Regions from separate parts of the Homo sapiens genome. Here regions 2, 3 and 4 are each reported to be linked to region 1. The links are microRNA targets in miRTarBase. Many come from high-throughput screens and were not tested one by one. Region 1 holds a microRNA gene; each other region holds the end of a gene's coding sequence.

Region 1 (7,124 bases):
TCCATGTCTTTGCTATTGTAAGCAGTATGGTGATGAACATTCCTTAGGCTATATAACTACCCAGTAGATAGCATAGTAGCCAATAGTTTTTTAGCCCACAACCCCCCATCCTTCTCTAGTAATCCACAGTGTCTATTATTCCCATGTTTACATCCATCTGTGCTCAATGTTTAGCTTCCACTTATAAGTGAGAATATGTGGTATTGGTTTTCTGTTCCTGATTAATTCGCTTAAGATTATGGCCTCCAGCTCCAACCATGTTGCTGCAAAGGCATGATTTCATTTTTTTATTGCTGTGTAGTATTCCATGAGATATATATATCATATATATATGTGATATATATATATATATCAAATGTGATATATATGTGATATATATATATATCACATGTGATATACATATATTTTCTTTATCCAGCCCACCACTCATGGGCACCTAGGTTGATTCCATGTCTTTGCTATTGTGAATAGTATGGTGAACACATGAGTGCATGTCTCTTTTTGGTAGAATGACCTGTATTCCTTAAGAGTATATACCCAGTAATAGGATTACTGGGTCAAATAGTAGTTCTAAGTTCTTCGAGAAATCACCAAACTGCTTTCCACAGTGGCTAAACTAACTTACATTCCCACTAACTGTGTCTAAGTGTAACCTTTTCTCCACAGCCTCATCAGCACATGCTGTTTTTTGACTTTTTAATGATAGCTGTTCTGACTGGTGTGAGATGGTATCTCATGGTTTTGCTTTGTATTTCTCTCATGATTAGTGATGGTGAGCATTTTTTCATGTTTGTTGGCCACTTGTCTTCTATTGAGAAGTGTCTGTTCACGTTCTTTGTCTATTTTTAAATAGGGTTATTTGGTTTTTGCTTGTTGATTTGTTTAAATTCCTTATAGACTGGATATTAGACCTTTGTCAGATGCATGGCTTGGGAATATTATCTCCCATTCTATATGTTGTCTGTTTACTCAGTTGATGGTTTCTTTTTCTGTGGAGAGCTCTTCAGTTTAATTAGGTCCCACTTAACAATTTTTGTTTTTGCTGCAATTGCTTTTGGGGACTTGGCCATAAATTCTTTGCCAAGGCTGATGTCAAGAGGGTATTCCCTAGGTTTTCTTCTGGGATTTTTATAGTTTGAGGTCTTACATTAAAATCTTTAACCCATTTGTAGCTGATTTGTGTATATGATGAAAGGGTCCAGTTTCATTCTTCTGCATATGATTAGACAGTTATCCTAGCACCATTTATTGAATACGGAGTCCTTCCCCAATTTATTGTTTTTGTCAGCCTTAGAAGACTGCCTATATTTCTAATTGATTACTCCTAATGGGTTTCAACTTAGCCAGAAGGATATTTCCAAAAATCAGATCAATCTTATTATAACTCTAAACCTGGCATCTGACTTCTCTCAGTGTAGACCAAGTAACAACACCAGACATAAGGAAACAGTGTGTATTAGGTGATTCAACCATAACACCTCACTATCACTAATACAGCATAAGCAAAGACATCCCACTCCTCTACCATCTCCCCCTTCATACTACATAGACATCCACACATGCACACACGTACACACATTCACACCCCCCCACCCACAACATGCACACACCCCTTTACATCATCATCAATACAACAGGCACTGGGAAAAAGATAAAGAGAGGGAGAAAGCCAACAACACATCCAACCCTATCCATATCGACACATAAACCCTGTTCAATACGTATACTATACAGAAGCCCTGCACAAGCTTTTAAAAAAGGAAAGTTTTACTACCCCAAATTAAGACTATTTTTAATCAGAAGTAAATAAAAAGTTATTTGTCAAACTGAGATATCACTGTTTCTTGTTGCCCAGCAGGGAAGGAATTCAACAAAGCAAACCTGGCAACAGTTATTGAAAAAAAAAATAGAATTGTCTTACATTCACAAACCATTAACTTGAAACTTCTTCATCAAAACTTTTATTTGTGCAAAGGCCTAGAGGTAAGAATAATCATGATTTATTCAGAGAAAGAAAGAAAATTTCAGAATGTTTGGAGCAGAGAAAACAAGAGAGAAGGAAAAAAGATGGGATTGAGTGGCTAAATGAAGGCAGTTTATAAATAACCCCCAAAGTATTATTCTAAATGTAATGGGGGATGATATTTAATCAGGATAATGCTATGATCTGACTGGATTTTTGGAACCATCCCTCTGGCTCCAATAGAAACATTTTTGGAAGTAATGAATTCAAAATACGGAAGACCAGAAAGGAAGGTGTTTTGAGACTAAAGACAAAAGATGATTGCCTGAACTATGATAATAACAAAAGATGAAGGTAAGCAAAAAATAAAAGGAGAGCCATTTTATCAAATAGAAACACAAGGCTTGATAACTGATTACATATAAAAAGTAAATGAGAAAAGGGCAAGTCATGGAAAATTATTGGGTATTTGGCTTTTATAATTAGGTAGATGGTGGTAATTTCACTGATAAAAAGGACACTAAAGGGGGATATTTATAGGATTTTATGTGGTGATATCTACTAGGTGACTAACAAATTAGATCTGAAGCTCTGGAGAAATATCTTGGCTGAAGATATAGATTTGAGAATCATGATTGAAATTATATAATTGAATTTGTGAGTATGAAAAATATAATCCTCAAAGAGAGGCTACGTGAAGCAAAAAAATAAAAATTCTATCTAGGCTAGAATCTGGAAGAAAATTCATATACAAGAGATTAGCAGAAAGCAGGGAAATTCAAAACAAACTGGGAAAAAGCAGAGTAATTAGAGAAAGTTTAAAAAATGTAATAATAATAGGGAAAAATATTTCACAAAGTAGGGAATATTCAAGATTGTATTAGGTTGGTGCAAAAGTGATTGTGGTTTTTGCTGTTACTTTTAATGGCAAAAACTGCAATCACTTTTGCACCAACCTAATAAATTTGCTGCACAGAGATCAAGTCAGTTGAGGATCAGTTAAAGAAATTATTGGTGACTCTGGCAAGAGCACTTTCAGTGGTGTAGCATGGGACTGGTCTATCAAAACTGCCATCTTATAATCATTCATATAAAACAACTAACCAATAATAAGAATATGGAAGACAGACTCGGCCTGTGTGCTTTGGCAACTTTAAGTTCCTTTGGTACTGCATATGCTGATCAACAAAGTAAATGATATTGAAGGTGTTGAGAGTATGGATACTATGCAATAAGAAATTACCCACAACACAAATGTACCAGAATTTGATTTGACGTGGAAATTTTACAAAATTTGTTTTGGGATTCAAGCTTGCTCTTTGGAAGAATAGTGAAAGACTTACTTATCATCTCCGGAACTCTAAACTTGCTGATGATCAAGGATGAGACAACCAAAATTATTATCACCATAAAAATATTAGTTAGAAGGATTGCATATCATTCAAAGTGTAGTATTACTACCTAAACATTCACTTTCAAATATATTCAAAATTGACTTGGAGTAAAAATTAATATCCATATATGCTTTATATGTTGCAATTCTTCCCAGAAAATCTTATCTTAGGGTCCATTTCACCATCAATATTTACAATGGCAGAGCTCAAAACAGAATAGCTTGCTCCTCCTTTGATCTAAATTGAAAGTGAGAGTCTACTGTATTGGGATTACACAGGTTTAGTGTATTGACCTCCACTGAGAAGGCTGGGAAATCATTGTGTTGTACAGTAATGTCAAATTATACACTTTGACTTTGAGCATTTTTAATGACAAAATTAAAATAAAATGTGGAAATTTTAATATTTATTCTTTTTTCCCAGAAGTTCATGCCATGAAGTGATATTCATCTTCAACTTCAACTTAGGCTGAATATTGACTTTAACCCTTGGCTAGACATTCAGCTAAAATGTGTAATTTCGTGGACCCTACCCAACAGTGTTTCATGGGCTTTTTTAGAAGGGTCTGCAATGTAGCATGCTTGCACAACAGTAAGTAATCAAAAAGCAAGATTCTTGACAAGAAAGTTAATGTGTTTAATTAACATATTAAGCAATCTACAGTAGCCTGAAATGTGTTAATGAAAATCATCTGGGGGAAAAATAAAAGGAAGCCCAGAAAAAGTCCATATGCCTAGCTGATGTGCTAGTTAATTCTACTCAAGGAAGGTTTTCTGTGAAGATTAGTGTAGCAAGAAACAAATCCCTCTGAATTCATGACACGATGCATGCCAAAAGAATAAGGAATTTGGGATTATAAAAATGCCTTATGGTGTGGTTATAGGTACAGGAGAGAGAGCAAAGATAACTAACAACACAAGATTGAGAGAGGATAAATAAGGCAGAGCCCTAGGAGGGATTGGCCTTGGGTAAGAGAGGTCACTTCCTTTCTGGTAACTGATATGAAAGAGATAGGATATCCTTGGCTTTGATCTTTGTTCTGTTTTGCTTCCCTTTGAGGATTGAATTAATTTGAAGCTGAGCTTCTGTCTTTTTTGAGTTTGTCTGTTTCCAGTTTACCCACACAACTCTGGTGTAGCTTTGAAAGATTCAAATTCTAATTCCTATTCTTCTAGTCCCATGATTAAGCCAAAATCTCTGTTCAGCTCTTCAGCCTCTCTGCTGCTTTCAAATTTACAAATGCCCTGAAAGAAAAGCGATGCCTAATGTCATGCTCTCTGCCCTTTCTTTCTCCCTGGAATCTTGAATTCACAAATCTTGGCAGCCTCAGTAAGATCTCAGATATCTTCAAACGATTTGTTGTTTTCTTTTCTTTCCCCTTTATTCAGCTATTTTGGTTGTTCTCAGAGAGAGGTTTGATCCAATACAGCTAGTTGGTTATCTGTCTAACTGTATTTTTTTCTACATTACATATTATCTCCATACACCTCCTTATCTTTCATATCAAAAGATTTTAATCTGTGATCATGTACACTTTAAAAAATAACCCACAAAACTCGTATGAGAGATTCTAAATATAGTGAGATTCTCTCCCTACATTTTTTTCCCTTTGTCCTCATGCATTGATAGTCACTGGTTCAGACACTCTTTTCAGGAAGCAAACTGGGACCGGAACTTTGGCAAGGGCTGAGTAAATAACCTCCCCAATCACTATAGCCTTCTCTTTAGACTCTACAGGTTCATCTGTGAATCACAGATGCCATCTGAGAGTCATTATTAAAGTCAGGATTTAAAAGAGTCTGTAAAATGTAGAATTATTTCACTACATAATTTATTTGTTCTGTTTCCCAAAAATTTCAAAGAGAAGTTTATCATTTCCCTGTATAACTTATACATTGACTTATTAAACTCAGTTTTTTTCTAGGAAGTAAAATAGAAATTCTTTTATTTGTATAAAACACATGCCTGGTATTACCAAGTCTGAAAGCACCTGGCATCTTACTGGTGGTGACTTCCAATGCAATCCGTCTATTGTTCTGAAAGGAAGAACAGTTTCAGGTTATCCTACAGGAGGCAGGGCGAGGTGGCTCACGCCTGTAATACCAGCACTTTGGGAGGCCAAGGCAGGTAAATCACCTGAGGTCAGGAGTTCGAGATCAGCCTGGCCAACATGGTGAAGCTCCATCTCTGCTAAAAACTACAAAAATTAGCTGGACGTGGTGGCCCATGCCTGTAATCCCAGCTACTCAGGAGGCTGAGGCTGGAAAATCACTTGAACCCGGGAGGAGGAGATTGCAGTGAGCTGAGATTGCAACACTGCACTCCAGCCTAGGCAACAGAGCGAGACTGCATCAAAAAAAAATAATAATAAAAGTTTACTGTATAGGAAAACAATGTTTTCCACTAAAAGATAATTGTAATTTCTAGCTTTCCAAATTTTTCTCTGAACAAACATTTTTTAAAAAGAATTATTGGAGAATTATATGAGAAATCAAATACTCCTACTTTTGAGAAAATCACATACTTTGAGAAAATCCCTTTAAACTTTATCAAAAATACTTTTACTCTCCTGAATTCTATACCTGGAAATGTCCTGTCTTAAAAGAAGCAGCTAAGGACAAAGTAAAGTGAAGTAATCATTCCTTTAAAGAACTGTGCTTTTCAGGGCAGGGTGGGGGTGGGGTCAGTTCAGCACATATATTATGATTAGTGTGTAAAATACCACCTGCTAAAATGAATCCTCAGAAAAGGCAGTCTGCATAAACACTTTTGTGGAGGTTTAAATTAGCCCTTTACAGCATTCAGGGAAGTGAGCCTACTTTTTTAAGAAAAAATAAATAAATAAATTTTATATATATACACACACACGTTACATTGACTTGAATTTTACAGTATGATATAGAGAAGACGTTTTTCAAGACACAGCCTGAAATACACTGCATCCATGAAAAATATCTGTGAAACTCACTTTCAAAATAATTCTCCTTTATTCATGAAACTGTATATTTCAAAGAAAATCTAGAAAAGGGTATGACTATAACTAGGACCATCTATCACTGGAAAATGTTTTTACTTTTAATATATGTAGAAAATCTCTATTTCCAAAATGCAAATAAAAACTACAATGAGATATCATCTCACCCTAGTTAAATGGCTTTAATCCAAAAGACAGGCAATAACAAATGTCAAGGACGTGGAGAAAAGGAAACCCTTGAACACTTTGGATGGGGTTGTAAATGAGTACAACCACTATGGAGAACAGTTTGGCGTTTCCTCAAAAAACTAAAAATAGAGTTACCATATGATCCAGCAATCCCACTCCTAGTTATATATCCAAAAGAAAGAAAATCAGTATATCTAAGAGATATCTGCACTTCCCTGTTTATTACCGTGCTATTCAAAATAGTCAAGAATTGGGAGCAACCTAAGTGTCTATCAACAGATAAATGGATAAAGAAATGTGGTACATATACACAAGGGAGTACTATTCAGCCATAAAAAAGAATGAGATCTTGTCACCTGCAACAACACAGATGGAACTGAGGTCATTATGTTAAGTAAAATAAACCAGACACAGAAAGACAAACTTCACATGTCCTCACTTATTTGTGGGAGTTAAAAATTAAAACAATTGAACTCATGTACATAGACAGTAGAAGGATGGTTACCAGAGGCTGGGAAGGGTGGGGCAGGGTGTGTGGAAAATGGGATTGGTTAATGGATACAAGAAAATAGAATAAGACTTAGTATTTGCTGGCACACCAGTC
Region 2 (7,124 bases), not on the chromosome of region 1:
GGGCCCATGCAGTGGTGGCCAGTGTCCCTGTGTTTGCAGTAACCAATGTGGCTGACATCTATGCCACGTCCACCTGCACGGAAGTCTGGAGCAACTCCTTGGGCCACCTGGTGTACGTTCTGGTGTATAACATCACCACGGTCATTGTGCCTGTGGTGGTGGTGTTCCTCTTCTTGATACTGATCCGACGGGCCCTGAGTGCCAGCCAGAAGAAGAAGGTCATCATAGCAGCGCTCCGGACCCCACAGAACACCATCTCTATTCCCTATGCCTCCCAGCGGGAGGCCGAGCTGCACGCCACCCTGCTCTCCATGGTGATGGTCTTCATCTTGTGTAGCGTGCCCTATGCCACCCTGGTCGTCTACCAGACTGTGCTCAATGTCCCTGACACTTCCGTCTTCTTGCTGCTCACTGCTGTTTGGCTGCCCAAAGTCTCCCTGCTGGCAAACCCTGTTCTCTTTCTTACTGTGAACAAATCTGTCCGCAAGTGCTTGATAGGGACCCTGGTGCAACTACACCACCGGTACAGTCGCCGTAATGTGGTCAGTACAGGGAGTGGCATGGCTGAGGCCAGCCTGGAACCCAGCATACGCTCGGGTAGCCAGCTCCTGGAGATGTTCCACATTGGGCAGCAGCAGATCTTTAAGCCCACAGAGGATGAGGAAGAGAGTGAGGCCAAGTACATTGGCTCAGCTGACTTCCAGGCCAAGGAGATATTTAGCACCTGCCTGGAGGGAGAGCAGGGGCCACAGTTTGCGCCCTCTGCCCCACCCCTGAGCACAGTGGACTCTGTATCCCAGGTGGCACCGGCAGCCCCTGTGGAACCTGAAACATTCCCTGATAAGTATTCCCTGCAGTTTGGCTTTGGGCCTTTTGAGTTGCCTCCTCAGTGGCTCTCAGAGACCCGAAACAGCAAGAAGCGGCTGCTTCCCCCCTTGGGCAACACCCCAGAAGAGCTGATCCAGACAAAGGTGCCCAAGGTAGGCAGGGTGGAGCGGAAGATGAGCAGAAACAATAAAGTGAGCATTTTTCCAAAGGTGGATTCCTAGCAAGGATTGTAAATTCTTGGAAGCAACGGGGAGCTTCCATATTCCCACCAGAGTGTGGGAATGCTGTGGCCATGTGATTGTATGATCTCCTTGCAACTCAGTGTGAGTTGATTCCTCCAATATGGGCCAGATGCTTTTGAATGATAGGGAAATCTACATAAAATCCAGTGTCCTCTTTATTGAGGGAGTATATGTATCCATCTCAGTGATCCATGTCCTTAGTGAAGTCCACATTATTCTCTGTGGGGACAAGAGCTGGGCAGTTTTGAATGGGTCTTGAGGTGGGTACCCCATGTGCACTTTCTGAGGATGCCTCACTTCCCTGGGCTCTGCAGAGAACACACAGAGAGAAGACTTTCAGAGCTCACAGGAGCAGGGAGCAGGAGCACTCTAAGGGAATTCCAAGATCATGATGGAGCATGGTGGCTCCAGAGAAAATGCCTGTTTGATGAACTTAAACATGTCAAACATTTTCTGTTGAGAAGGTAGGGATTTGGTGTCTTACACTGTTTCTCTGGAAGCCCCAGTCATATGACTCACTGTTTCTCCTGATACCCTTCGTCCCTTTCATTGGGATGTAGGTAAGGAATGACGATTCCTCACCTATGGTACACATGGCGATAGATGTGCCCGGGAGTAAGGGAGATATTTTGTCCTTGATAATTCTGATTTTCCCTTGGCATCACCAACGCCTCAGAGAGATACACCTGCACCCTCCAGTCAGGGTCAGTGTTGGCTGGAAAACACTGAAAAGTCTTCGCTCTGTCTTTCACCTTAAATTGTGTTTTCTCAACAAATGAGAGAGAAGCTTACGGGGGAGATGCCTGAGAGATGCCTATGGCGCTGTAGTTTTTTTTTCTTCCCTATGATCTCACATGAAAGGTGCTATGTAACAACCAGTATGAGTCAAATATATTGAAAAAATCATCTTATGCAAACTTTAGGAATTAAAAGGTATTTTTAAAATGGAGAGTTAGTGTAAGCTGGGTCCTTTGGAAACATCAAACTGAAAAGGCCTGATTTGGAAAGGTGACTCTGCCCAAAAGGTTGGCAAGAATCTGACAAAGATGGTTTCCTTCCGAGGAAGACTCCGGAACTCAGGTGTGGCCAGTCTCCTTTTCAGTCTGTTTGTACAGCTGCGGTTCTCTCTTAATTTTGGACACAGAGGAGGAACAGAACAGGGAGAAATAATCATTGTAGAGTGCCAAGGCAACATCTGACCCAGATGAGCTCTTCACTTCCTCCTTCCCTGTCGTTGTAGAGCCAGACTGGGTAGAAGAGGGAGGGCAGTGTCCTCAACTCATCAGCCTCACAAGCAATTTGGGACCCCTCTGGGGTGGATTTCACCAGGTTGAATTAGAACCGCAGATAATACTTCCCTGTTAGTGAGGACAAACCAAGCGCCAGCTCTGCCCTTTTCTCTAGAGTGTTGTGTTCTTGCTCTTGGTACTTACAGGAGCTAGTCTGGTGCCTTGAGCAAGCTTGAAGGGAAGTGGGTGTCCTCACCAGCAAACTTCCACATCTCAACTCGTGCCCTCTTTTGGCCACACTGGCCCCGTCTCTTGGAGGGAGCCCAGACCCTGTAGGGAGTTTTGTTTTCCTTTCTTCTCTTGGGTGTGGTGTCTTGTGTTTCTGAATGTGAACCCAAAGACCCTACCCCTGGAGAGGAAGCACCTTCCTCTTTGTGTTGGTCTCCTCATAGCACTGTTTGCTCACAGCAGAAACGGGGCTGCCACAGCCTCCTGCGGCTCTGCTGCCTTCTGGGCCCTGCGTGCATGGCATCTATAGCTCCTTGCCCTGATAGTCAATGCTGTGGCCCTTCAAGCTTGTCTTTCAAAGCTTTCACAATCATTACAACTTTTATCAAGGGGAATAATAATCTCTAGGAAAATTATGTCCACTTTAGGAGAATCTGTCAAGTGTAGCCACTTTGGTGTTGTTCTGATAATATACTGTATATGTACAACTTAATAAATTTTGATGAGGCAGAATCTGGTTGGGTATGTTTCTTATATATGTTTGAAGCAGATGGCTGACTACTAACAGGTCATTGCCAGGTGTATTTCTATACTCTTTGAAGAATAACATTTTAATAAAAAATTGAAAAGCAGTTTCTGAACTCAAGAAAAGTTTTATGAGCTATATTTTCTCCCCCTTTTCTCTCCCTCAAGTGATATACTGTTGGAACCTGTCTCTTCCTACATGGTCTCTGATGAAAGATATTCATTTTTTTTTTCTCATGAATGCAGATGTGGCATTTCAGTAGCATTTTCTTGTGTTGTTGCAACTAAAAGAAAATAAATTCCCTAAGGAGGAACTGCAACAGTTGAAAAAATATCACCAAGATGGGTTCCAGATTGAATTGGCGATAGACACCCAAATCTCTAGGCGGAGCTACACAAGGGAAGCCTGGAGTGCAGCCGTCATCATCCCTCCTGCGGGAGGTCAGGAGCACAGCAGTTAGGGCCATGAGCTTTGAGGTCAGATTGCCTGTGTTTAAATCCTGGCCCCACACTGACTAGCCTTGTGACCTTGGGAGGATGAAGTAACCTCCATGTACCTCAGTTCTCTCTCTGTAAAATGGGAGGATAATAATTGTGTCAGAAGCTTCTGTTGCCCCTTCTCACATATTTCACCTATGACTTTAGCTGTGTCTGCAGTGGGCTGTTGCTGGCGGCATCTACTCGCTTCCCTGCAAGCAGAGCTCCCTGTGTCTGGGAATAATCCTTGGCCTGTGGGGCATGGGAACCACTGGATAAATACCCCTGCTTCCTGTCCTGCTGGACAATTGTGGGAGGCCTCTGTCCAGTTCTCAAGAGGTCACTGACACAGAGTTAAGTCCCTGTGGCCCACCATGGCACTTCAATAATGCAGCCTTATATTGACTCTACTTTCTCCTTCTCTGACTCACTTTCTGCAGTCCTCATTCATGCCTCAAGGATCACCTCCCAAACATACTACCTGCACAAAGCCCTCATCTCAAGCTCTGTTTTCAGGGAGTCCAAGTGAGGCATAGAGCACCTGTTAGGATTAAATGAGATAATCTGTTTAACACAATGCCTGGCACAGAGTACAGCTATATCAGTGTTAGCACTTATACGTTACATAAAAAAATAAAGTGGCTAGGCAGCTTATGCGGAATATTCTTAGAAAACTGTAGGTCTTTTCCCCAGTTATTCTAACAGTAATTAATTTTCATAATGATGATACTTTGGGGTAATACATAATGCCAAGGGACTATTAGATTCCCTGAAGAAAAAATAACTCTGTAAGCCAGAGTATTTCTTAATTAGACAATTCTCAGTTGAAAAAAATAGGATGTTAAAAGAAGGTTCACCTTGGCCACTAACGTGTAGGCCATATCTGAATATGAATGCACTCAATGACCGTATCGAAGTAAGAACAGAGTAGAGTACATAGAGTATCTAAGGACAGATATGCAAATCCAAAGTGGCCCCATCTGTAGGAAAGAAACTGCAAGTTAGTTGGTGGGCTAAATGAACATCTGGAGCTCAAGCACCAGTCTGATTCATCTGAGGAGGAAAGCCACTGCTGCATCCCAGCTGGGTACTGCTGAGCTCTTGGCAGACCTGCCCGAGGTGAGGTGGCTCTGTGCATATGGAGCTGCTGCTACAGGTTGGATCAGAGATGCACAAGGAAAAAAGCTTATTACGGGCGGAATTGTGGTGGAGGGAAAGGGTTAATGCTTTCATAGTGTAGTGTACCAACGTCTCAACATACAGTGTCAATAATACCATAACATAGTGATGCACTTTCCCCAAATAGTTGTAAATATTTAGCAGATTTGTATCCCAACTAGTGTGCCACATTAGAGCTCTGTAACCAAAAGAGAAATGAGTCATGGTAAATAACCTGGGAATCTGTGAATAAAATAGGAATTGAAATAAGTATCAATGCCCAGGGCAGCATCAAAAGCCTTTTTGTGCAAGACGTATAAAATAAATGGAAATGAGCTTAGATTCTCCATACATGAGGTTTCAGAAGATAAAACAGCTCCCTTTTTCTTAGCCTCAGTTTCAACCCATGTTTTCCCCCATTTGTGCCAAAGGTATCAGTTGATCAGTAGAATAAAGGTTGGAAACCTGTATAGAAATGAAACTGTGATCTCCAGCATTGTTTATGCGAACCTCTATAGCACTTCATGTCCTGGGGATTCAGGGGCTTCTTATTGCCAGATTGAAATGAGTGAATGGTGAATGAATACATAAGAGATACAGCACCTGGAGCAGGGGTGCGGTCTCTGTCGTGTATGAGTGATGAAAGATTTGCTTTCAGTGGAGTTATTGCTGGCTCTTATTGATTTCCTTGGAATGACTCCTGCAGAGTTAAAAGGCATCAAACGCAAGGCCTTTGATCCATCTCCTTCAAATACCCAAGCCTCCTTTTAATGCACTAGGAGTGTAAGTTCCAAAGTTGGAGGGGAAGTTCAATACTGAGAAACGCAGTTCCAGGCATGTGTGTTGGGCTTGAAGAATAATTATTCATCAGCTATGTTGATCAGAACTTAGTGATGAAATCTTTCTGCCTCCCTTAAATTTCTCTTTATATGTGTATTCATTGCAGTCCATATACAAAATGTAATACACACACAAAGGAGTTACTAGAATAAACACGTGGTATACATTCTAAGGCAACAGGTGAGAAAATAGAACACACGGCATGATGCTCTTGCTATATTAACCATATTACCTGTGCATCTAACTTCTCTTCTCTCTTTGCCTGGCCCCTCTCATTCACATGCATTGCCTCAGGGGAGGGGACGAGGCTTTCATTGCCTCAAGGGAAAGCAGATATCCTTTGAATCTCTTCCTAGATTTGGGTCTCAAAACCTAGGTGTTAGGAGAACAGAGGGGACTCTTGGGGTTAGGCCAGTGAAGTTTTGGTCGTAATTGTCAAGGAGTGGGGCATGCTCCAGGCATCTACTGGGTAAAGGCCAGGAATGCTGTTAAATACCCTCTAATGCACAGGACAGCCCTCACAACAAAGAATTATCTGGTCCAAAATATCAGTAGTGCTAAGGTTGAGACACGCTGGGTTAGCCAAAAGTTTGAGGTGGTTTGAGGAGGGGGGGACCATCTCCCCAACCCTTACCTCTGTCCTCCATGCAAACCCAGGTTATTTATGGAGAAAACAGAAGAAATTTAAAGAGAGTTGTGTAGGTCATGAGACATCTGCTCGGTGGAAAAATGCAAGCCTGGCTGCTTTTCCTCAGCTGGATATCTGCTTCAGGGATGGGCTTGCTGATCGGCCCTCTGAATTTGGAGGTGTGAGAAAGGAATTGGAGAGAGATGACAGAGTAAACAGAGAGGGCATCCTGCACACCCATCATGTGGCATGGTGAGAATGGGTGATTTTCTCAATGTCAAGGAGACACCACAGAAACTCGACTTGAAAACTGGCCCCTGGCCAGACTTGGAGGAGGCTGTGGGTGGATGCTGAGAGGGGTTGAAAGTGGTCAGGCCGGCACTGTGTCTGGCACCAGAGATGTGTACACTGAGGGCCACATGCCACACCTCTGGAGATTCCCCACCAAGTACCAATGAGAGAACAATGGCTGCACCAATCAAGGAGAAGATGTTTCCTCCTTTTGCCCATCCTTCCTCCTAACTCCATGGAGGCAGAAGGGGGACCCGCGAGAGGAAACATCAAGCTATAGGAGGAGAGGATTCTCATCCACTCATGGTGAGTTCCTTGGGCTACAGATCAAGCCTGAGTTGGGGGAGAGGAAGAGCATTACATTAGGCATCATCGTGAACTTTAAAACTGGACCAGACTCTTCAATATCTGAAAGTAACCGTAGAGTACTAGGATCTCCCTGGGCTACAGTTAAGGAACAAGAAAGGAAGCTTCCTTGGATTAGTTACCAATTCTAAGTTCAGACTCTACAGTAAATCATGACGACAGTTAGGGGAGCCAGCCTTGGAATAAAGGTGACAAAGAGGACAGCACAGTACAGACAGGGCAACATGTACCTGATGATGTCACTCAGCTGCTAAGTCACATGTCTCTACCTTTGAACTTCCAGTTAATGTGAGACAATAAATTTCATGTTGT
Region 3 (7,124 bases), not on the chromosome of region 1:
ATAATAATAAATGATGGCATATCATGCAAATCACATCAGGTGAGTCGTTATTTGGATAAATTATCCAAGTGTTAACCTGGTGGCTGTTGTGATGATGACACATGGCTGTAATGACTGCATGTGGGTCACAGTAACTCACATGAGCTCACTGTGAGCTCTTGGAGCATCTTGGGGCTCCCCGTGGGCAGAGATGAGGACCAACAGGAAAGAATAGTGGCACAGTGGCTGGCCACCCCAGAACACTACAGAGACAACCTCACCTGGTCCCCAGCCCACGGTTCTGCTCACAGACTCAGAACTTCCCCCACCTGACTGTCCTGAGCACTTTGAGGAAGGCAGCCCCGGCCATGCCTGAGGTGGCCGCATCCATCCTTCCCCACCAACCCTGACCTGCTCCTCCTCCTCTTGAGCCAAATCTACTTTCTCAACGCCTCGGCTCCCCTCCATTCACGAGCATCCCCTGCACGTTGGGGGTGTAATGATGCCCATTGCACAGGTGAGGAGACTGAGCCCCATAGAGGGCAGCAGCTGGGCCTGCAGCTGCACAGCAGTGTCAGTGGGCCTGTGCTAGGTGGGGCGTGCCTCACCCCACAGCTGTGCATCCCTCAAGCCATACAGAGATTGTCTCCTGCCTCCTCTTTCGAGGGATCCTCCCGGCCCGTGTCTCCCCCAGACCACCAGGCCTGGAGCTTCTAGACCCGGCGTTCAGGCCCTGGGAGAGGACTGGGTGGAGGCGGAGCTGGCAGCTGGCCAGGATCTGGCTGGGGGGTTGGTGGCCTTTTCCTGAGCCCCAGGCTCTGTTGGGGCTGTCTCCAGTGTCTTCAGGATCCAGGCTGGTGCCCTCAGCCAACCTGGCCAACCTGGCCAACCTGGCCAATCTATAGCCTGACCTGCCCTGGGCACAGGCCTCAGAGCCAGTGCATCTTGTGGAAAAATCCTATAATGGACCCTTTAAGTGAGATAAAGAGGATTAAAAATATGAGAACCTCTCTTTAGTGATGGAAATGAGTTCCTGGTAGAAGGAAAAAGAGGAAGAGGAGGAGGAGGAGAGTCATCTGTAGAAGACCCCGAACAACAGTAAAAGCCAGGCCCTCGGCTGCCCCCACCTGTCCACATGCAGAGAGGGAGGCTCCAAGGGACACCCAGCCTGGAGCTCATGCACCCTGAGGCCTGTGACCCTACAAGCAGTTAACGTTTAAGACTGTTCCCGTCTTCTCTGAGGCTTTCCCTGTCTTGGAGATAAGATGCCCCCTGCTGGCAAAGGCAGGTATCACTGTAGGGTGGCCGTCCATGGCTGCGCTGTTGGAGACACCAAGACCTCACCGTGGGACCAGACGCTTTAGTCAGGCTTCCCTGACTGAAAGGAAAAAGTCACTTTGACTTAGCAGGAAGCTCAGGTTTGGACTTGGTCTCATCCTGGACAAAAAACACTGAAGAGGGGAAGCAGAGGGGTTGTAGGATGCGGGTGGGTGATAGCAGGGCTGAAGGCTGAGGACAGAGAGAGAAGGGGCCACTGTGAGACTAAGATGCTGGCCCTAGTCACAAGGAGGAGGGAGAGGTGGACCAGGAAGGCCTCGGCAAAGGGCTGAGCTCAGGGCTGATAAGAACATGGAAGGCCCTCACCTGTAAATGGGTGATAAAAATAGAGTTTATCTAGTAACTGACCACTAAAATTTTAAAAAAGAAAAGTAGGGCCAGTCGTGGTGGCTCATACCTGTAATCCTAGCACTTTGGGAGGCTGAGGCGGGTGGATCACCTGAGGTCAGGAGTTCGAGACCAGCCTGGCCAACATGGTGAAACCCTGTCTCTACTAAAAACACAAAAACTAGTCGGGCATGGTGGTGCATGCCTGTAATCCTAGCTACTCAGAAGGCTGAGGCAGGAGAATCTCTTGAACCCAGGGGGCAGAGGTTACAGTGAGCTGAGAATGTGCCACTTCACTCCAGCCTGGGAGAAAGAGCGAGACTCCGTCAAGAAAGAAAGGAGAGAGACAGAGAGAGAGAGAGAGAGAGAGAGAGAGAGAGAGAGAGAAAAGTAGGCTGGACGTGCTCATGCCTGTAATCCCAAAACTTTGGGAGGCTGAGGCAGGTGGATTGCTTGAGCTGAGGAGCTCGAGACCAGCCTGGGCAACATGGCAAAACCCTGTCTCTAGTAAAAATATAAAAATTAGCTGGGCATGGTGGCATGTGCCTGTAGTCCCAGCTACTCGGGAGGCTGAGGTCGGAGGATCACTTGAACCCAGGAGGTTGAGGCTGCAGTGAGCCGTGATTGTGCCACTGCACTCCAGCTTGGGTGACAGAACAAGATTGCGTCTCAATTTTAAAAGACAGATGTACAAACTTATCAATGTAATTCACCACATTAACAGATTAATGGGAGAGGGCAGGGTGGGGGCATAACAGTGATTGCAAGAGCTCCAGCCAGGGGGAATGACAACGGGCGTGTACTCAGTCTTGCCCTGTGCCTGGCACTGCTCAGTGACTGAAGAGTCATCTCACCTCTTCCTCACTTAACCCTGTGAGGAGGAAAAGTTATTACCCTGATGACAGACGAGCAAAGGGAGGCACAGAGGGCTGAAGCCACTTGCCCACTGTGTGACCCTGGGCAATTTAGTCCCAAACTGTGTCGCTCCAGCCCCTGTTCCTGTCCACCCTCCTACCCTGCCTTGACTATAAGACCTGTCTAACATGGGCTCAGGAGGAGGGCAGTACAACGTTTTCCCCAAAGCCTGCACCTACCCTGCTTGATGGGCATTAGCCCCCTTTATGAATGGGGAACTGAGGCTGGTCTAGGACGGGTGACTTGCCCAAGGTCACACCACCAGGGCTCGGGGTTCCAGGCTTTTATGAGGCCCACCAGGCCCCAAAGCCCATGTGTCCTGGGCTATTGTGGGTGTGAATGAGGCCTGAGGGGAGATGGACCCCAACATCTGAGGACAATATGGGCAGGTCCTGTCCATCCCAAGAGGCCCCACTCTATGGCTGGTGTCAGGGGCACACGATAGAGGATTCCCCACTAGTCGATCTCCACAAACAGAAGGCAAGACCCGGAGCCCAGGGATTGTTCTGCAGGAAGGAGGCCGCCTACACTGTGGTTCACACCAGGAGGCTGGAGTCTCTGCAAGCCTGTGTGCAGGAGTCTCGGACACTCATGCTACTCCCACTTCCCACTGCACTCTGCTTCACTTGTGAGGTCTTTGCATAAGAGTGTATAAAACCTAAATGTATGGGGGGGGTTGTTTTGTTTTTTTGAGACAAGAGTCTCGCTCTGTTGCCCAGACTAGAGTGCAGTGGTGCGATCTCGGCCCACTGCAACCTCCACCTCCTGGGTTCTAGTGATTCTCCCGCCTCAGCCTCCCAAGTAGCTGGGATTACAGGCGCCCACCACCACGCCCGGCTAATTTTTATACTTTTAGTACAGACGGGGTTTCCCCACATTGGCCAGGCTGGTCTCGAACTCCTGACCTCAAGTGATATGCCTGCCTCAGCCTCCCAAAGTGCTGGGATTATAGGTGTGAGCCACCGCGCCCAGCCCATAAGTCTGTTTTAATGATGATGAATAAATTGCACATCCATGAACAGTCTCCCAGGTCAAGCAGTGAACCATTATTGACATCCCAGAAGTCCTCTGGGCCCCTTCTCAGCCACATCCCTCCCTCTGCCAGAGGTGAACACTATCCTGACTCTGGTAATCAGCCCCTCGCTTTTCTTTACAATGTCACCATTTAGGTGGTAATTCATGAGTTTTGCCTGCTTGTGAACTTTGCATAAATGGATCAGTGTGGAAGCTTTTTTTTGGCTTTTTGTGATTCATCTGTATGCTTTCGTGCAGTTATGGATCTTCCATTCTCATTATACAATATTCCATTCTGCGAATATACCACAATTTATTTAGATGCTTATTGGCATCTAAGGTTTGAGCCCTTCATCAGTTATATGTGATTCCATTATCTCCTCCCAATTTTTCACTTGTGTTTTCACTCCTTTTTGTTTTGCTTTTATTCATAGCAACCTACTACATAAGGTTTTCACTCTCTTTATGGTGTCTTTTGATCAATGGACATTCCTAATTTTAAGGTCACTGAATGTTTCGTAATTTTCATTTATGGTTGTTTCTGTGTCGTGATGAAGAAAAACTTTGCTACCATGAGTATACGAAGGTGTTTTGCCTTGTTTTTTGTTTTGTTTTGTTTTTGAGATGGAGTCTCGATCTGTGGCCCAGGCTGGAGTGCAGTGGTGCCATCTCGGCTCACTGCAACCTCTGCCCCCTGAGTTCAAACGATTGTCCCGCCTCAGCCTCCCAAACAGCTGGGACTACAGGTGGATGCCCAGCTAATTTTTGTATTTTTAGTAGAGACGGGGTTTCACCATGTTGGCCAGGCTGGTGGTCTCAAACTCCTGATCCGCCCATCTAGACCTCCCAAAGTGCTGGGATTACAAGAGTGAGCCACAGCACCCGGCCCTGCCTCATTGTATTCTTAAAGCGCTTTGGTTTTGCCCTTCGCATTTAGGCTTTAAACCCACTTAGAATTATTTTTATTTGTGTTGTAAAGTAGGGATCCAAGTTCATATTTTTCAATGCGGGTAACCAATTGTTCTATTTATTCAAAATCCAATCATTTCCCCACTGGTCTAACACACTTCCTTGGTCACCAGTTCTGTGTCTACACGAGTGTGTCTACACTGTTTCCGAGATCACTGTTTTTTTATTGGTCGATTTGTCTACTCTTGCAAAAATATCGTGCCATCTGAATATACCATTACAATAAGTATCAGTGTCCTGGCTAGTCTTGGCACTTCTACATAAATTTAAGAATTAATGTGTCATGATCTACACACAGGCAAAACTCTATTGGAATTGTGGTTGGATTTGCATTGAACCTACAAAGCAGTTTCAAGAGAACTGACAGCTTTGCACAGTGGCCAGTGAGGAAGAAGGGAAATGAGGAGAGTGTGGTATCTTGGAAACCAAGTGAAGAAAGGGTTGCAAGGTAGAGATGATCAACTATGTCAAATGCTGCCAATATCCCAAGTAAGATGACATCTGAGACTTAACCATGGCTATAACAATGTGAATATCTTCAGCAGTTTTGCTGAAATGGTTGGGCAAAAAAGATCTGATTGGGGCTATTTCAGAAAGGCATCATAGAAGAACTGAAGAAAGCTCGTATAGATATTTCTTCCAATAGGTTTTGCTGTAAAGGGAAGTAAATAAATATGTGGTGTTTTATTTTGTTGAGCAGTTTTTTATTTGCATGCAATAAATATATATCTTTCTTTCAAAGCTTCTGGGCTTCCTGTTTTTAGTAGAAATGTGATGTCTGTGGACAGCAACTGTGCTACCAAGTACTGCAGTACATTAACTCCTCTTTCCTTTCTGAGGCCTTCCTTATCTCAGGGACTAAGGGGTCTCCCTGCTGGTGTCAAAGGCTGTTTTTTCAGTAACCTCAAAACCTTGTGGCTGATTCACAACTGATGTCCCCACATCCACAGGAGACCACAGCTACCACTGCAACCATGTGACTGACACCAAACCCTCATGTGGCTGCCACTCTTCCTCCCTGGCTCCCACCACCACCATCCAAATACACACCTGTAGGGTCCCACAGGCAGAATGTGGAAAAGACAAAGAACCATATGGATTAGGACCACGAGACGAGGAGACACACATCTTCAAGGAAAGACATGTTGAAGCAGCAGCAGGCGACCACGTCCCACCCCCAACTCCCCACTGTGATCCTCCCACAGAAAGTGACCACCCTGCACACTCATGCCCAAACAGGAGAACACTACACCGCAAGACACTGTTTCTCATAGAGCTCTATTGTGGCATATAATAATAGGTACTCTATATAAATTAAATTAAAAATAAAGCTCCAGCAGGTTGCACAGGTTGGCTGTTAATAAATATATCTCTGGGTAATTGTGCCCCAAGACCAGCTCACGACCACTCTCCCTCATCCAGAGAATTATACAAAAATAAATACAGGCTCGGGGGGTAGGCGGAGGACATGCCCAGTTCCACTCTAAAAGTTCCCCTCACTCACACCATCTACCCGTTCCCTCATCTCCACTGGTGTCACCACAGGGAGCCCTGTGTTGACTGGAGAGCTTGGGGATGAGAAGGCCTCTCTTTCAGTTGAGCATTCTCAGAAGCAAAGGACCCAGGTCCCCTCACTGCACAGGCCATGTATCCCATCTTAAGCCTCTGCTGATCCCACAAGCAGAGCCTATGAGAACCAAGCCAGAGAGAGGCACAGCGCAAGCACCAGGAGGGACACACCGCTGTTCAGAGCCACAGGGACCACCACTAGCCCGGCCAGGACCCCCAGAGTCTGGGTCAAGGGCCCCCGGAGCTGAGGAGGCAGTGCACACACACATTCTGCAGGGACTGCTAGGGTGGGAGACTTCTTTGGGGGTTCAAGGCTTGGGCCTGCATCCTTTTCATCCTGGGAGCTCACATGAGGCCTGGCTACACTAGAGAGACAGACTTCGGCCCCCAAGGGACTGAGGAGGGTGGGATTTTGCCCCTGCAGAAGGACGGGAGAGGCTGGCTCCTTGCCAGATATGGGATCCAAGCTGCCTGCCCACTCACTGGTGACCTCTATCTGGGCTTCTGTCCCGGCCTCCCCCAGGGACTCAGTCACCCCAGCTATCACCCTATTCATGTGCAAAGAGCTGGTGTCCTTGCCCATCCCTTTCTCAGGATCCCCAATGAACTGACCCTCTGTACCCAGAACCACAGGGCCGTCACATCCTGAGCCCTCTGCCCATGGGAGCCACACATCTCCCATCGTGGCTACCACAGAACGGGCCCCGGAGAGGATTTCTGGAGGCGATTCCTTGGGGCTGTCCCCTTCTGGGCTGGAGGGTGTGACAGAGAGCCCCTCTTCACCCTCCCCTTCATCATCAGGGTCTTCGGTGTCCTTGATGAGCTCCACGCCACGCCCCAGCCGGGCATAGTGCAGCGTGATCTCCTCAGCCAGGGCGCTGTTCAGGGCCCGCTCAGGGCCAGGCCACTTCAAGATCAGGTCGCGGTCCGTCAGTATGCCCAGGGGATGGCTGGGGGACATCCCTCCATCTGTGGAGCCCTCCCCACCACCCCCTGCCCCACCCGCAGCCACA
Region 4 (7,124 bases), not on the chromosome of region 1:
CAATAGATGGAAACTGATGATCAACACATAAGATATATAATGCAATTAAATAAACATAGTCTACTTAAAGTCTATAGAAATCCAAACATTAAGCCAGCATATTCTTTTCCTGACTATGGTAGATACATGGAAATTTGCTTCCTTTTGAAACCAAGAGATCAGAATTCATTCTTAAATTCTGATTCTTCTGCTCTTAAGGCAGAAAGCTGTTTGTTGCCTTTTCCTTTGGGACAACCAACAGTCGTCTAACAAAGAATCCAACAAACAAAAAGTCAAAAATTTAAAATTGAGTAGGAAAAATCTGTCAGAGCTTCTTAGACTGGTTTCTTCATACATGTGTGCAGCCTCACGTGAGTGCCTTTTATTTTTCAGGAAATGCTTGATATAATGAAAGCAATATACGATATGATGGGTAAATGTACATATCCTGTCCTCAAAGAAGATGCTCCCAGACAACACGTTGAAACATTTTTTCAGGTAGGAATTAAAACAGAAGTCAAGAGGGCATGAAGTTAGGAGAAAATTTCCTGATGTTTGCCATGCACCACGATGATTCAAAAGAGAGCAAAGGAAAATAATTTTTACTGAAACAAAACAGTATTTAGCATCCTATTAATTTAATAGCTTTGGTTTTGAATTTACAATGCTGATAACTGCATTTATTGAACATTCACTAAATCCAAGATACAACACTAAACAGTTCTCATGTTTCACAAGTTTTGTTTTCATTCAGTTTTTACAAGAATCCTATAAATCCTCATTAATCTCATTTTACAGATGAGACAAAAAGCAAGCTCTGAAAGTTTCAGCAAATTGCGCAAGCTCTGTCACATCTAGAAGGTGGGATTTTACCTAGGACAGAGTGACTCTACATCTTCACCACATTATATTGAAAAGGGAAAAGCCAGAAGCATTTGGCCCTATCATTTTTATCTCTAAAAAACTGCTGGTTCCTGCTCTGAAACAGTTCCTCCACGTGAAATAAATAAGCAGCTAGGTTTTCTTTTTATCAGCTTCAGCTCATTTGGTCCAGGTGTGAGGGTATTAAGGGATAAGTCTAAATACAATTTTTGTTTTCTTCCTGAACAGAAAATGGACAAAAATAAAGATGGGGTTGTTACCATAGATGAGTTCATTGAAAGCTGCCAAAAAGTAAGTAATGAAAGTGTAATAACTATCAATTCAGCTATCATAACAGCTAAACTGAGTATTAGCAGCTAGCTACCATGAACTGGGCGAAATATAGAGATCATATGCCTAAGTTTACCACTTCTACAACATGCAGCATAAGCCTACCACTCTGAAAACAAGCACCAATTACATAATCAACATTTAGAGTGCCCACTGAGTCAGGCTATGGAGGAAACCCTGGGGATACAAAAGTTGTACATGTACTGTGTTGATTCCCAAATTCCTTAGAGAGTATTCATGGAGGATAAAACATACATGAGATTTGAATTGCTCTTTGCCAAAACTTAGCATCACTCATATATTATCTATCATATCTCCACAGCATTAGAATTCCTAGATAGCCAAGTATGGCATCACAACAGGCCAAGCTTCTATCTGATTTCTAAGAGAAAAGTCATTGTTTTAGTGTATGTGGACAAGAAATGGCTCTTTGACTGAACTCACTAATGGTCTTCAGTCACAAAAAATAAACAGTGGAAAATTTTCTCTGAAGAGAACTCCAGGTAGTAGCCTGTTATCAAAGAAACCAGTGTTAGCTTACTTAGAATTATTTGACTTGATGTGTGGGCAGAACCACAGTTAAAAATTGTTAAGGCCTGGTACAGTAGCTCACAACTGTAATCCCAGCACTATGGGAGGCTGAGGCGGGAAGATAACTTAAGGCCAGGATTTTGAGTCCAATGTGGGCAACATAGCAAGACCCTATCTATCTCTACAAAAAAAAATTAAGTTAGCTGGGCACGGTGGCACGTGGCTGAAGTCTCAGCTACTTGGGAGGCTGAGGCAGGAAGATCACTTGATCCCTGTTGAGCCATGATTGTGCCACTGCACTCCAGAATGATGGGCAACAGAAATAGACTCTGCCTCAAAACTAAAAAAAGAAAAAAAGAATTTTTCAAATAATCCTGAAAACAAAGAAATCCGTTGTTTCTTTAGTTTTTCTCTTTATTTTTAAATTGTTGTTCTTACTTTTCTGGATGTCTGCTTGTCTCTCAACTTGGATTTCCATGCAGTGGTCTTTGAGAGAATTAATTTGGTGACATTAAGCTGCTTGACGGTGATGTTACTTGGTTTCTAGCAGTGGAAGCCATTATTGGTTCAGCCACCATTTACCACTACCATAAACAGCTCAGTAAGTGCTATTCACATGCAACTGACAAGTGCTCCAATAATGCCCAAAGTCTGTCCCCTAACTCATTTCTAAAGAATATGCTAAACTGAACACAGCCACTGAGCAGTGGTTTCTGCTCCCCAATTCTTTCTCTGTAATTGAGAGACCATTCATTTTTAAAGGCTCCTTCAGGCCATGCAGCTTTAGCCATAACTAGCAGACAGAAAGAGAGATGATTACTGCAAACATGTTACCTCTTAATCCACCACCCTGCCTCCTATGCGCCAGCCTCCAATCTTCATGAACTGCTGGCTCATACACACAAATTTTCCTTGTACCTGTATAAAAGTCTGTGTGATTTGGCCTGTGATCTACATAGAATGCCAAAATTCTCATTTGCTTTGACACACCTCTGCACCTCTGTAGTTTCCATTTTGGCATTATGATTTGAGAAATATCCTCTATTAATACCAAGTAAAGATTTAAATAAAGTGGTTTAATGCCTGGTCAATAGACTCCACAAAATATAAAATGGGTCCTTCATAGTCATCTATGTGGAAAATGGATAGAATAGAATGGCATTTACATTTGCAAACACTTAATATTTGAGCTTTTGGCATAGGTGGTTGAGGTGGTTGATGGGAGGAGGCAATACTCAGGGGCAAAATAGTGTACTTTTCCTTGCAGATATGCTGAATTTAATCGCTCTGTGTTTCTCCCTTACAGGATGAAAACATAATGCGCTCCATGCAGCTCTTTGAAAATGTGATTTAACTTGTCAAATAGATCCTGAATCCAACAGACAAATGTGAACTATTCTACCACCCTTAAAGTTGGAGCTACCACTTTTAGCATAGATTGCTCAGCTTGACACTGAAGCATATTATGCAAACAAGCTTTGTTTTAATATAAAGCAATCCCCAAAAGATTTGAGCTTTCAGTTATAAATTTGCATCCTTTTCATAATGCCACTGAGTTCAGGGGATGGTCTAACTCATTTCATACTCTGTGAATATTCAAAAGTAATAGAATCTGGCATATAGTTTTATTGGTTCCTTAGCCATGGGATTATTGAGGCTTTCACATATCAGTGATTTTAAAATATCAGTGTTTTTTGCTACTCATTTGTATGTATTCAGTCCTAGGATTTTGAATGGTTTTCTAATATAGTGACATCTGCATTTAATTTCCAGAAATTAAATTAATTTTCATGTTTGAATGCTGTAATTCCATTTAAATTCCATTTATATACTTTAAGGAAACAAGATTACAACAATTAAAAAAACACATAGTTCCAGTTTCTATGGCCTTCCCACCTTCTGTTAGAAATTAGTTTTATCTGGCATTTTTAAACATTTAAAAATTATTAAACATTTAAAAATTAGTTTATTATCAGATATCAGCATATGCCTAATAAAACTTATTTTAATAAGCATTTAATTTTCCATAATATGTTACAGCCAAGGCCTATATAATAATTTTGGATTTGTTCAATCTTTCTTACAGGCTGTTTTCTATTGTATCAATCATTAGTATCAATCATTAAGTGGAAGTTGAAGAAGGCATCAAACAAAACAAGGATGTTTACAGACATATGCAAAGGGTCAGGATATCTATCCTCCAGTATATAGTAATGCTTAATAACAAGTAATCCTAACAGCATTAAAGGCCAAATCTGTCCTCTTTCCCCTGACTTCCTTACAGCATGTTTATTTATATTACAAGCCATTCAGGGACAAAGAAAGAAACCTTGACTACCCCACTGTCTACTAAGAACAAACAGCAAGCAAAATTAGCAAGCAAAATTCACTTTGAAAGCACCAGTGGTTCCATTACATTGACAACTACTACCAAGATTTAGTAGAAAATAAGTGCTCAACAACTAATCCAGATTACAGTATGATTTAGCTCATCATAATTCAGATTATTTTTAATCATCTTAGCCAAAACTGTAAAGTTGCCACATTACTAAAGCCACACACATCGTCCCTGTTTTGTAGAAATATCACAAAGACCAAGAGGCTACAGAAGGAGGAAATTTGCAACTGTCTTTGCAACAATAAATCAGGTATCTATTCTGGTGTAGAGATAGGATGTTGAAAGCTGCCCTGCTATCACCAGTGTAGAAATTAAGAGTAGTACAATACATGTACACTGAAATTTGCCATCACGTGTTTGTGTAAACTCAATGTGCACATTTTGTATTTCAAAAAGAAAAAATAAAAGCAAAATAAAATGTTTATAACTCTACTGTCTATGTTACAGGTCTTTTCCAAGAAATTTTGTAATTAATTAAATCTTACAGTACTTTCTAGATGGCAGATAGCTCTGGATGGTGCTCAATGCAATGAAAACAGGTAAAAGCAAGGCCAGCAGGCAGGCAGCTGTTGTAGCCAGAGGGAATTGCTTCTATTACATCAAAATTCTGAACTATGTCTATATTATATTTTAAAAGCTTCTTAAAAATTGCTAAACATAAGCACAACAAAATCAATGAATGCATGTACAAGTTTTAACATTTTAATTGCTGAATATCTTTAAGTGAACATCAGTATTTTCTGGCTATGAAATGCAAAAATAACACATTTACTTAAATACAGTTAACACCTAAAATTTAGGTAGTTGTAATGAGTTGTAATAAACAACATACTTGTAATAGAATTTACAGAATTAGAAAAAATTTTTTAAACTAGAATACTCTGAAAATTTTCCAAGCATTGTACATTATAAAATACATATTTACAAATAATATTAGTAGTGTATTCATGGGGCCAGGCATGGTGGCTCACACCTGTAATCCCAGCACTTTGGAAGTCCACTGTGGGAGGATCACTCACCAGAATTCTGAGACCAGCCTGGACAACAGAGTGAGATCCCATCTCTACAAGCAAATTTCAAAATTAGCTGGGCATGGTGGCACACGCCTATAGTCCCAGCTAATCAGGAGGCTGAGATGAAAAGGATCATCTGAGCACAAAAATTTGAGGCTTGCGGTGAGCTATGATTATGCCACTGCACTCCAGTCTGGGCAACAAAGCAAGACCGCTTTTCTCTTTTAAAACAATTTTTTAAAAGTGTATTCACAAACATTTGTCCACTATTTTAAACTTCTATAGCCTTGTTAAACATTAAACCCAAGAAATGGCAAACTATCTATAAAAATAAGGGCACAGCTACAAACTGATTGCCAAAAAAGTGTTGTTATAAATAAAAAGACACTAGAAAATACAAATACATCTTATCTTGCAAACTCAATAATGGTTCTTCGCACAAATAATAAAAATACAAAAAATAAACCTCAAAATTGTACTCTTATAGAACTTATTTTAATAACTTTCCATTAGTAACTGTTCTTTTTTGTTGATGAATAACTTTGATTCAGTGTCTATTCATCTTAACCTAGTAAATAATGAATGGTGGCTGTGATTTACAAAAGAATAAAATAAATGAGTACCCACAGTTAGTGCTTGACACGTCAACAGGTAGAAAAAACAATTTTTGTTGGCTCCCTTCTTCAACAGCATATGGAGCAGTATGTTGGAATTTTAGATTTGATGATGCTAAGGCTCCCCTGTCAACAGAAAAAAATTGAGCATCATTAGTATCATGCAGAGTTCCCCTAATAGGTATTATATTTGCAGGAATATGCCTAGAAAGTATCTAAAACTCAAACAAAAAGGGGTAAGAACAAAATGATGAAATAAGAAGGACTTTTTGCTGAGTTAAATAAAATATAGGCTGTTTCTTTCTCTTTTTTTGAAGTATCTAACTAGAGAAGTAGTTAGAAGCCAGACTACCAGTATCTGAATTCAGCATCTACTAGTCACTTATTCGTCAAACCTGGACTAATTACTTTTCTGTGCCTAAGTTCCGTGATCTTTAGAGGGAGATAACAACAAAATCTCCCTCTGATGACTAGGAAGAGTAAATGGGTTTCATGTCTAAAAAGTACTCAGCAGAGTACCTGCCATGTAATAAGTTCCCACACAATCAATAAAGATCAGGATTTGCATTGTGCCTTTTCCAAAATAAATGTGCATTTCACTTAGAAAAAAAATCAAATCAGGCTAAGAATGAACTGATTTCAATTTAAGGCAGATCAGTTCTAAGAAAGTAACACTGTGACTATCTGTAACAGATATTTTCCTGTATCCAAAAGTTGAATAGTTCCATCATTGATATACACAAGTCCCAAGAAATGAGAAACCACAACTGAGAACACTCATTTTTAAAGACTTAATTTCTAATATTTTAAGAAAGAAAGAGATATATAAGCTTTTAAGGTCTTAGAAGAGAAAGAAGAACATTCATTAGTTTCATGAAGGATTACGAAGTAACAGAAATTAGCACAATAATAAGCCAAGAGAAAGTCTTTGGTATGTAATTGCAATAGGAAATTTTCTATTCCAATTACATCAATCATTATTAAAATATTATGTAGGATATAAGAAGGAGGAAACAAGAGGAGTCAGAAGAAAATAAATAATAACAGCCCTTGTAGCTACAAAATCTTTTTTAAAATTCTGTATTAGCAACATTCAAAGCTAGTAAGATGGAGTAGTAAAAAAAGAATTTGATATTTCTGGGATCCTGGATTACTCAACTACAGCTCTGTGTTCCCCTTCCAAATCTTAATGTGCCGTTTCTAAACTTTATTTACACATATACTATCTCCTCCTCCACACCCCCTCCACTCCCACCACAAAATCTAACATGCTTGGCCTGTCCCTTTCTACTTGTCCCATTTCCCATACCGGCCCACAGGATATGGAAAATCACCTAGGGAGCGTTTCCCACTGAAAAGCTGTGGCATCATTATTTA

Evidence for each region. Region 1 holds the annotated microRNA hsa-miR-548az-5p (CAAAAGUGAUUGUGGUUUUUGC, at 2,855-2,876, shown strand). A microRNA usually pairs through its seed, bases 2 to 8, with sites in the 3' UTR of a target mRNA and lowers its output. Matches are read on the target gene's strand: a 7mer-m8 pairs with bases 2 to 8, a 7mer-A1 pairs with bases 2 to 7 and ends in A, and an 8mer does both.
Region 2: the mRNA of GPR176 is a reported target of hsa-miR-548az-5p. Seed matches in the 3' UTR shown: 7mer-A1 at 2,906-2,912.
Region 3: the mRNA of PPP1R3F is a reported target of hsa-miR-548az-5p. Seed matches in the 3' UTR shown: 7mer-A1 at 6,027-6,033.
Region 4: miRTarBase lists PACRGL as a target of hsa-miR-548az-5p. Seed matches in the 3' UTR shown: 7mer-m8 at 5,494-5,500, 8mer at 5,372-5,379 and 7mer-A1 at 2,646-2,652.

The regions. Positions count from the first base shown.
Region 1 is chr8:119,322,336-119,329,459 of GRCh38, forward strand. It overlaps MIR548AZ (microRNA 548az), which reads left to right and starts at 2,836; the gene lies at 2,836-2,930.
Region 2 is chr15:39,795,057-39,802,180 of GRCh38, reverse strand. It overlaps GPR176 (G protein-coupled receptor 176), which reads left to right. Exons shown (of 3, transcript NM_007223.3): 3 at 1-3,173. The coding sequence ends at 1,049. Among named protein-coding and RNA genes, the nearest start is that of FSIP1, 16 kb to the right of the region's middle.
Region 3 is chrX:49,286,196-49,293,319 of GRCh38, reverse strand. PPP1R3F (protein phosphatase 1 regulatory subunit 3F) reads right to left here. Exons shown (of 4, transcript NM_033215.5): 4 at 5,230-7,124. The coding sequence ends at 6,230. Among named protein-coding and RNA genes, the nearest start is that of GAGE10, 14 kb to the left of the region's middle. RefSeq lists an enhancer at 1,296-1,345.
Region 4 is chr4:20,726,034-20,733,157 of GRCh38, reverse strand. PACRGL (parkin coregulated like) reads right to left here. Exons shown (of 9, transcript NM_001258345.3): 9 at 601-5,873. The coding sequence ends at 5,817. It overlaps KCNIP4 (potassium voltage-gated channel interacting protein 4), which reads left to right. Exons shown (of 9, transcript NM_025221.6): 7 at 373-477; 8 at 1,090-1,152; 9 at 3,029-4,552. The coding sequence ends at 3,076. Among named protein-coding and RNA genes, the nearest start is that of PACRGL, 29 kb to the right of the region's middle.